Regions from separate parts of the Homo sapiens genome. Here region 1 is linked to region 2. Evidence: fine-mapped expression QTL. A gene starts in region 2. The other region holds a variant in brackets. All regions are shown on one strand. Distances are from middle to middle.

What was found. PIP is the estimated chance that this variant, and not a neighbour inherited with it, causes the effect.
Region 1: its variant is the best candidate, but not a certain one, in a credible set for the expression of NID2 in whole blood (TOPMed, PIP 0.67).

Annotation. Positions count from the first base shown.
Region 1 is chr14:52,040,529-52,045,900 of GRCh38, forward strand. It overlaps NID2 (nidogen 2), which reads right to left. Exons shown (of 22, transcript NM_007361.4): 6 at 2,254-2,403; 7 at 1,577-1,822; 8 at 123-323. Among named protein-coding and RNA genes, the nearest start is that of NID2, 26 kb to the right of the region's middle. The variant A/G (reference allele first, on the strand shown) is at 2,542.
Region 2 is chr14:52,066,960-52,072,331 of GRCh38, forward strand. NID2 (nidogen 2) reads right to left here and starts at 2,100. Exons shown (of 22, transcript NM_007361.4): 1 at 1,808-2,100; 2 at 899-1,204. The coding sequence starts at 2,035. It overlaps LOC105378180 (a long non-coding RNA gene), which reads left to right and starts at 2,277. Exons shown (of 2, transcript XR_943864.4): 1 at 2,277-4,548; 2 at 5,270-5,372.

The DNA of each region.
Region 1 (5,372 bases), 26 kb before region 2:
GCTCATTTTATGTTCCATGCACTGTTCTAAGGACATGCCATGTAAGTCATTTAAGCCTTGTATCTATCTTGTGAGATGGGCATAATCCCCATTTTACAGATGTGAAGACTGGTTATACATACTGGAGTCGGAGTAGTGGTACAGCTCCTTGTAGGGAGAGATGTGGGCTGTGAAATTTGCTGAGACGTAAGGCACCTGGCCTTGAATGTTGGTCTTAATGCTCAGGTAGTTCTCTGGGTCAAGTCCCTCAGCAGTTTGAGTGATACGAACCGTCTCCTCTCCCGGGTAGAATGTAACTTCCATGTCATGGGTAAAGGCAGCACCTGGAGATGAAAAACATTCAGCACAGGGATGAAAAGAGGTCTTGCTTAAACAGTTACCAGTATATACTGCCCGCTCCCAATTTCTACTGCTGTTGGAGATCGTGCCTAAGGAGATTATCTGATATCTGAGAGTAAGCACTATCAGCTGTTGATTCCATAAGTTCCCAAACTTTTCCATTGAAGAATATGGTTTCATCCTGCCTTACCTCACCCAGCTTCTCTTTGAACAAGCTTGTATTCTGTGAGAAATACTCTTGGGAACGTCCTTGACTTTTCTCTAAGGTTGCTAGACTTAGCAAAAAACAAACAAACAAATAAACCTAACAACAAAAAAACAAAAACAAATAAACTACCACCTAAGACATTCAGGGTTTTGTTTGAATTTCAGATAAGTATGTCTCATGAAATATGTGGGTAATACTTATACTAGAAAATTGTTTATCTGAAATACAAATTTATCCAGGTGTGCCATTTTTTATCTACTTTTGACCCAAGGGCTTTATTCAAATTTTGATTAAAGCAAGAACCTATTAACAGCTACCGAGCTCTGCAGTTAAAGATGGAGAAAGAACTTCTCACAAAACTATTTTTAATGCAATAAAGATAAAACCTCTAGCAAACAAGTTTTCAGGTTGGAAGGTGAGAATCCAAAAAGTATCTTCTAAATCCTTGTTGTCAACGGGTGGCCTTTCCAGCAACACTGGTACCTCACCTCCTAGCTTGGTAGAAAAGCAAAATCACGGACCCCACCCCAGGCCTGCTGAACCAGAATTTACATTTTGACAAGACCTCCAAGTGATGTGTGTGCAGGTTCAAGTCTGGGGTGCACCGGCCTATACTATTATAGGTTGTGGAGCTGGGAGGAGAAGAGCACCCCTTCCCCATGAAGTAAAATCATCCCCAGGTGCCCCAAGTACCATTTTTGCATTTGACAGATCTGTGCATAATTTAAAAAGCCTGACAAATATGCTGCAACAAATTGGGGTAAGAGGACACAAATGTTCTGAATGGAATCATCCTGTTTCTCAGAACAGCTGGGAGAACATTTAGACGAAATCACTGCCTTTCAAAAATCAGTGATGTGAGGTCAAACCATTCCCAACAACCTGTGGCCAGAAAACTACACACATGTGGCTCTAGTACATTAAACAAGTGATTCCTCTGTCACTGCGTAAAGGCCTAAAGACAGTGCCCCAAGGAGCACCACTGCCAAAGCAATGCTGACTACCGGCCTTCTCAGAGGCCCTACTCACCTGCGAGGCTGAAGCCGTTCTCAGAGCCAGGTTTTTCTAAAGCAAAGAGCCAGCCAAACAGGCCTCCAATTGGTGTGAGGGGGAGGAGGGCCTGGGCTGCTGGCTGTGGGATGTGGCTGATGGCCGTGTAGGCTCTGCCATCATTGCCCACGATATACGCATGCAGGTCCACATCAGTGAAGTGCACGGGTGTATGGCCCACGTGGAGGTGGCCACTCACTTTCCCATTCACTCGGTGAGGTGCCCCTAAAAGACAGCAAATCCAGTTAGGCTTGGACGTCATCCTGGCTAGAGATGGGTGTACCCAGGTATAATTATTCCACTGACAACTTCCAAAACTCACTCTTTAGCAAGTCACTTTAATGATTTCCTAACCAACCAATTATCCATCTATGAAACAGTCCTGCCTCCAGTCTGTTTTCTCCCCTCCTCCTTCTACTCCACTACACTTTGGCTCTAATGAGCTGGCAGAAGGAAGCATTTCTGGATAATCCTCAAATTGGGAATCAGCCCAAACCAGTTCATTCCTCACACATTTATTGAGCACCTGCAAGTTGATAGCACTCTGATTTAAGTAGTGGAGATGTTTGGTCCATAAAGCAGAGCTCACAGTGGTAGCTGGAAACAGGTAAGCAGCAGGAATAGACACACAGGAGTTCCTGGCCCCAGTCAATTACCTTCAGGCAGACAGTGCTTCCCATTTCCATAAAACTTGGATTGGCAGTGGCAGCAGAAGCCAGTGGCATAGTCCGTGCAGAAGGCATGCCGGGAGCATTGTCTGTGGTTGTGTTCACAGGTTTCCTTGTTGGCAGCATTATACGTGAAGACTGAAAAATAAAACAAACTTGCCTTAAAAGGACTAAATGATTCCAATGTCACTGCTGCATCGGGGACACAACATCTGCTCCATAGAAGCAGTTTAGATCATAACAAACAGTTTTTGATGTTTAAGAGACCGGCATAAC[A/G]TTCAACCCAAGGGAATTAATCTGCTTTGTCTGCTGGCAAGAAGAATTGCTTACTGCTCCCGGCTGGGTCCCATTGCAGAGTTGGTGAACTAAGATGAGACTGCACCCGTGGGTTTGAGTGCAGTAAAATGAAAGCAAACCAGTAAGTACATGTTAGGTTGAACTTCATGAAACCACTATTTTTGTGGGTCAAAAAGGGCTAAATATCAGCACTTTTATATGGTTCAACCTAAACACATCCTGAGAGGAAGACATAATAGAGAAGCTAACAAATGTCTTATGTCTAACCATCCTTCTTTTAGGGAACACTGAACTTAAAAAAGATAATAGCTGGTCTCGCTACCAAGATTGTTTTGAGGGAAGGGTCTTAAAGAACACACGCACCTACCTCAAAGAAAAGGCATGGGGAGAAGGGGACAGAGGAGGGCAAAACAACAGGGATTCAAGCTATTAAAATGCCCTATGCCCTTGGCAGGGTTTAACTATGATGGGTATGGTACAAGCATGATTTCCACGCAGTAGCAGACAGCTTGGGCCCCACTCGCAGATCTTCCAAGAAATTATGGAGGACTAGGATAAATTCAGTGCTCTGGCAGCTGTTTCTTCCATTTCCTACTTATTCTGCCCATTAAAAGAAGAGGGCCATCTGTGCTGCAAAGAAATGGGGAAACTGGAGCAAATGCCATAGTTCATAAAGGAAATAGCCAAGGGGGTAGGGTGTGGCGGGGGTTGTGGATGGACAGGAGGGTGCTTTCTCCGGGGCACTAGGAAATATGCCAATCCCAAGCATGGCCACCAGGAGGCCAAGCGGCTGCACACACCTCTGCCTCCACATCCCCAGGAGGTGGAGTTGGCTGGAGACTCCAGGAGCATGCTGTTGAGCAGGGATGGCATGGAATTCTAGTGTGAGACACGGATGCTGGCATGAAGGAGGACACCCACCCTACTCTTAGGAAAAACCAAGTGGTAGTTGTGTTCCAGGTCTATCTGGAAACGAGGAGACAGGAGGGGAGGAAGAAATCCAAAGATCAATCTTTACCCAGTATTCCCAGGGAGAACAGAAAGTAAAGGAGCTAATGAGACATAGCATTATAGGTACAATGTCACCAAGATAAAGACCTCCATCAGCAAATAAAAATATAACAAAGTTAACACTTCAATCGCGCTTAACATATACAAGCTTTACATTTAACAACCTTTTTTTTTTTTTTTTTTTTTGAAACGGAGTCTCGCTCTGTCGCCCAGGCTGGAGTGCAGTGGCACGATCACAGCTCACTGCAAGCTCCACCTCCCAGGTTCACGCCATTCTCTTGCCTCAGCCTCCTGAGTAGCTGGGACTACAGGCACCCACCACCACGCCTGACTAATTTTTTGTATTTTTTAGTAGAGACAGGGTTTCACCATGTTAGCCAGGATGGTCCTGATCTCCTGACCTCGTGATCCACCTGCCTCGGCCTCCCAAAGTGCTGGGATAACAGGCGTGAGCCACCCCGCCCGGCCAACAACTCTTAATTTGCACAACAACCCTAGGTAGCAGGGACTTTTTTTTGTTGCTGTTGTTGAGACAGGGTTTTGCTCTGTCACCCAAGCTGGAGAGCAGTGGTGCCATCTCGGCTCACTGAAAGCTCGACTTCCCAGGCTCAAGTGATCCTCCTATTTCAGCCTTTTGAGTAGCCGCAGCCACAAGCATGCATCACACCTGCCTACTTTATTTTTTGGTAGGGTGGGTTGGGGGGAGGGGTCTCCCTGCGTTGCCCAGGTTGGTCTCGGTCTCGAACTCCTGGGCTCAAGTGATCTTCCCACCTAGGCCTCCCAAAATGCTGGGATTACAGGTATGAGCCACCACTCTGGCCAGGGACAATTTTTTAACCCGTTTGCAGATAAAGCTGAGGCACAGTAGACTAAAGCACCTGAAGTCGCATAGGCAGTGAGTGGCAAAGGTGGGAACCGAACCTAGGACATCTAGCTGGAGAATCTTAACTGCTACTCTCCACGACCCCTTCAATGGGATCCAAGTACGGAGATCATGAGCACTAGATTAGGGGTCACCACATGTCTGGGGTTAATCAGCACAGACTTCAAGTATAATTCGAGTCATACTTTATAAACTGGGTTTAATGGTAGAAGCAAGCAGGGAAGATTATCGAGATGACTATTACAGCATGTTGAAAAACAGCACAGGTAAGAAATGAGAGTAGCAGCAGCGGCATTAGCTTTTGAACAGTACTGGAGTGCTGCCTGCAGATCCTTGGGAAAGCAGCAAGCTGAGGGTTGGCAGGACAGACAGTGTAGGTTCAAGTGGAAAATCTGATTAGAACATAGTAGGAATGAAGTTATGACTCAAGATTTAGTATAGGGCCTTGATGACTTGGCTAAGAAATTCCAGTTTGATAAAAATAGAAAATTAGGCATGACTCAACTTTATTTAAACAAGAAAGTGACAAGCTTAACTTAAACAGAAAAGTGATATAAAACTCAAGGCAGAAAAAAAAAAAAAAAAAACCCAGGATGGATCATGGTAAAATAGATGGCTGTGAAGAAAACTGTATCACTGTCTATTAGTTTAAGAAAGGGAAAAAAACATTTAGAGTAAAAGGAAATGAATGTAACTTGGATGTGTCAAAATCTCAGGTTTCTCCAGCTCAGAAATTCACAACTAAGTGTAAGGAAGCAGCTACAGGAGGGACTCACACACTCACCAGTGTGCTCATGGCTTAAGGGCCATCAGGACTTTCTCCCAGAGCTCAAGGAATGAGGGGCTGCAGAAAGCGCCAAGCTCTAGGACTCAACCTCAGCCCTCCCTCGGGGGCTTTGTGGAAACTATGCAAACT
Region 2 (5,372 bases):
TGTAAAGCACATTGACGGCAGACTCCTATAAACTAAGAAACTTGTAAACTGGTACCTGGAAGGCAATTAGGCAGAAGTTATCAAGAACTTTATCAAAAGTGCATCCTCTCTGACCTACCAATTGCACTTCCTGGAATGTCAACTAAGAACATGTGCAAAGATTTAGCTTTTTAAAAAGTGATTCACGCTATTATTTATAATAATGAAAAACCAGAAAAAGCCTTAATGGCCCAACACTGGTTGAGCATACTGTGGTACACCCACTATTATACAGGATAATAGCAGGATACAGTAGTATGCATCATTATAAATGATGTAGAAATACATTTATTGACATTGAAACATATTTACAATACACTATTCTGTGAAAAAAGCAAGTTATAAAACAGTATGTGCAGTGTAAACTCATCATTGTTAATAGACAGCAATAAAGATATGCAGAAGAAAAAACTCTGAAAATGTACGCAGAAAAATGTTTATCAGTGGTGGGAAAATGAGTGGTTGTTTTCTTTTTTAAAATTATCTGTATTTTCTGATTTTTTCCCCTTCAATGAACATATAATTAGAAATACTTGTATACTTAGAGATGGTTCTAAAAATAAGCAACCAAACAGTAAATTGCCTTATGTTCAAAGGGGCTCCCACATCTGCACTCCCGCTCTCATATCCGCTAAGCATTTTTTTCCTCAAGGGAGTGACCACCTGCCAGGGCCTCAGAAGATGCCTAGAGACAACGTCTTTCCTCACTCCCAAGCCACTCCAGCCCTGCTGCCTCCAAGGTCAGGTTCAGCGCAAGAGTAGGCTCAGAAACAACTCCGAGCCAGTCCCTGGGTCGCTGCCCCAGAATTTAAGCCCATCCTTCAATTTCCTCAGCAGTCAAATATCCCTGGTCACTTACCTCTCCCGAGGGCAGCGCCCCGCGCTTGACCTCCTCGTAAGCGCCTACCTGCTCCCAGGTGGCCAGGAAGGCGTGGGTGGGGGTAAAGCGCGCAGAGCGCGGGAAGCCAGCGCGCACATAGCGGGCGGCCAGGCCCAGCACTGCGGGGGAGGTGTCCTCTCGGTACAGGACTCGGCCTCTGCCGTGGCTCGTGTCGATGTCCGCCAGAAAAGGGGCGATGGCCGGGAAGTCGGTGGGGAAATCATAGTCCACATACTGCGTTTCCCTGGGGAAGTCCTGAGTGGAGATGATGCCGTTGGTGCCCACCTGGGAGAGGAGAGGGACAAAAAGGTGACAGTCGCTCAAGCCCAAGGACGCTACCCTTTCGCGCAGGGAGGGAAGGGAACTGACTTAGGCAAAAAGCCTCTCTCTCCTTCCCCACTGGCCAGGGAGTCTGGATTCAGGGAAACAAGCGCAACTTTTGCGACTGTCCCAGCTCCGCGCTGCAGTAGGTCCAGGGGCCCTAAAACTCGTTCACCTATCTTCTCACTCCCCTCACAACCCCGGAGCCCCATGTCCTCGGAGAGGAAGCCTCCAGGTCTGAAGAGGGAACACCCCAGCTCCGCAGACGGGCACAGCCTTCTCGCGGTCCTAACTGCAAAGCCCGCTGGCCGCCCTAGCAACGCCACCTTTTCTGCCTGGGACGCGTACGTGGCTGCGAACAATTCTTGCTCTCCCCTCCAGGTCATTCTTGCTCCCCTACAGCAGCGGGGCAGGCAGCGGCATCGCTCTCTGGCCGGGTACCACCGCAAGGGTGCTGGGGGGCTCCAGGAGTGGGGTCTGTTTCCTCCCCTCTGGAGGCAGGGTTTCCGTGAGACCGACCCCAGGGAAGAAGCTGCGGGAAAAGTGCCAGGAGGGGGCTGAACTTACGTAGAGGTTGCTGAATCGGGCTTCGTAGAAGTGCAGGGGATTCGCCAGCTTCACCACGGCTGAGCTTTCGTCGTCGCCTTCCTGCAGGAGCTGGTCCCCCCACGACTCCCCGTGTGGGAAGAGCTCGTCTGGGTGCAGCGCCGCGGCCCGCAACATTAGCAACGGCAGCAGCAGTAGCACTGGTAACGACGACAGCACCGGCCGCCCGGCCACCCGGTCCCCCTCCATGCTCGCTCGGCCGTGCGCTTACCCGCTGCACAACGCGTCCCGCCCCGGCCTCCAGCCCACTCTCCGCGCCGCGCCAGCCTCGAACCTGGATCTCCGCGGGCGCCTGGGCGGGGCGGGACTCCAGGCCCACCCAGCAAGCTAATTGGCTGAGGCCCTCGGCTGGGGACCAATCACCGGCTCTGAGAAAGTTCGGCAGTGGCCACCACATCTGGTTCTCGTTAACTTTTCTAAGGCAGCGGCCGCTGGAGCAGCGGGGCTGGCGGGGTAAAAGCTCCTGGCCAGGGCTGCCTGGAGCTGCCCCTTCCACTCCGCCCCCAGGGAGCTCCCGGGTCATCCTCTCATCCGGGCTGCCCCGCGGCCCCCAAGGAGCCCCACCCCCGGGACCAAATGGCCCGCAAGGTTTGGGGCAGCGGCGTTGCAGGAGATGAGCTCAGCGCAAAGGGAACCCCGCAGCGGCGAGTGCGGCTGCTGGCCTGCGCGCTGTGGCCCCAACAGGCTGGCAGGGCGCGGGCGGGTGGCGGGGTTGCGGTATGAGCTTTGCTCCCTGCCCTGGGGTCCCGGGCGCTCCTGGCTCTGGAGGCCTGGCCATCGGTCCGAAAAGCAAAGGGACATTGTCGTGGTCCCCTCGGCCGCTTCGCTCCACCCAGAGACGCCCTGAGGAGAAGCGAGCCTTTGTACGAAGGCAGAGGGCTGACTCCTAAGTTCTGTCCCCCTCCCGAAGGCCGGCCGCTAGGGAAGACTTGGCCACCCTCTGGAAGTACCTTCCCCCGGGAAAACCGCAGCAGGAAAGACCATGAAATACTACTGTGTGTGATCCGCTCCGTTTGGGGAGTAGGATGAGGCATCCCGCTTGGTTACCAGGCAGAAAGGGGCGAGTCGCGGGGATGGGAAGACCCTGATCTCTTGCCCATTGCTGCGGCCGTCGGAGATGCCCTCCCCCGCGGCCACGGAGGCGGTAACCTGAGCTGCTCCGCAGGACTGGAAACCGCACAACCTCGAAACCAGCTGCGCAGGAGAAGGGGAACCCCATCCACCATAAACATCCCCTCTGCGAAGCCTCAGGAGCTGGAGGAGATTTTATTACCATTTTTATTATCAAGAGCTTAAAATTTCCCAGACAGTCTGTTTTCTCTCCCAGGCCCCCCATGAGGTCCTTAAAAGCAAAGATATTTAAAAAGAACGAAAGAAAGAAAAAAACCAAAAAGCAAATCCTTGGAAATGCCTTAAAGGACTCTCCAGAGACACACTGCTCTTTGTAGGTGTTTATTCCTATGGGCCCACTGGACCAAACGCTAAAAAACGTGAAGACATCAGACTGTGAGACTCATAGAGCAGACACAAAATGGAAAACTGGCCCAAAGCAGTTTGCTTCCTCAGAGTGGAGAGTTGTATATTTGATGTTCCAAAAATATATTTATGCTTGCACATATATTTTCTCATTCTTTCTGGGGTCAGGTATTTTTATTTTACTGAGGATGAAATGAAAGTTCAAAGACAGATGACTTGACTTGCCCAACATCATCTGAAGTTACTCCCTGATATAAAACTACTGGCCCTCTGTAGTTTTACTTTATCTCTCGATTCAGCATAATAATAATAACTAACATTTATTTAGTGGTACTAAGCTATGAGCTTTGGGGCAAGCAAACACTGAGATGGTCTCCAATGATCCCCATTTCCTGGTGTTCATTCCCCTGTATAATCTCTGCCCTGGGAGTGTGGACTGGCCTTGTGATTTCTAACAAACATAGTGTGGCAAGAGTGATGAGAAGAAGGCTAAATAAGATTGTGGCTTCTTCCTTGTTAGTTGACTTTCCCTCTCATTGATTTTGATGAAGCAAGCTGTTATGTCGGGGAGGCCCACATAGCAAGGAACTGAGGAGGGCAGCCTCTGGCCAACAGTCAGCAAGGAACTGAATTCTGCCAACAACCATGTCAGTGAGCTTGGAAACGGATCCTTCCCCAGTTGGGTCTTGAGATGGTATCTCAGCGCTGGCTGACATTTGATTGCAGCCTTGCAAGAGACCCTGAAGCAGAGGACCCAGCTAAGCCAGGTGCAGATTCCAGACCCACCAAAACTGAGAATTATAGTTTTGGTTAGATTATAATTATAGTTTTGGTGGGATTCCAGACCAACCAAAACTGAGAATTACAGCTTCAGCTTCAGAAGCTGAAGAAGCTGTGTGTTGCTTTAAGCTATTACATTTTGGGATAATTTGTTATGCAGCAATAGACAACTGATAACAGGTAGTCGTTGTGTTAAGGAAACTAAAGCTCAGATGGGATTTTAAAAAAATCAGTTATTATCACATGGCTGGTAAGTACCAAAGCTGAGATTTGAACCCAATTCTGTCTGATCTCTAAACCTCCACTCCTAACCACTAAATTATATTGCAGCAAGGCCCTTTGGAAAGTAGCTCTAGTTTATGTCTCTAACTTTATCTCCCGTCACAGCCACCCTGAAGTCTCACCTGAAGCTGAGACTTTAATTCTCCAATACAACATCCTCACAGGTAAGTCCTTTTACCTACAGTAAAAGGTCAATTTCTTGGTCAATTTCAAGCCAACACCTTCTCATCTTTAAGGCTTGAATCAAAACCCTCCTCCTTCAGGAATCTGGGAAGAGAAAAGAATTCCCCACATCTTTTGCAAAAATCTCATTAATAATCCACCCCATTTAGCTTATAATCAATAAATAACCATAAGTATAATCAGTCAAGCAGCCGACGCCACTGCTCTGCCTATTCTTTTGTTTCTTTACTTATCTAATAAAGTCACTTTCACTTTACTTTGTAGACTCACTCCAAATTCTTTCTTGCACCAGATCCAGGAGCCCTCTCTTAGGGTCTGGATCAGGAACTCTTTCCAGTAACACTACTGCCCCCTTTTGAGCTATGTATTCATCCTTGAAACTGCTTGCTATTGCCACAAGTAACTATACATTAACCTAATAATGTCACACTGGACACTATCACTCATAGCCTATAGCTTAACAGTGCATAGCCAATCAGTGAGCAATGTTGTTTCTGTAAACCAATGTGAATTCCTTACAAACAATTTCATATCGGCCTACTCCCTGTCCCCCTTTTCTGCCTGTAAAAAACCTGCTTGTAATAAAGGCGGCATGAAGCTCATATCCAGGGTTACTTGGGTCTAAGTCTTCCGGGCAACTGTCCTCACTTTGGCTCAAGTAAATGTTTTGTTATATTTTGTGCCTCTGTCTTTTCCTTTCAGGTGGACGAAGCTTTCCTGGAATCCACAGTCTGATTTAGAAGCCCTTTCTCCTTGCTTCCATGTGCCCTGTGCTTGCCGTGATCATACCTCCTATCACACATCT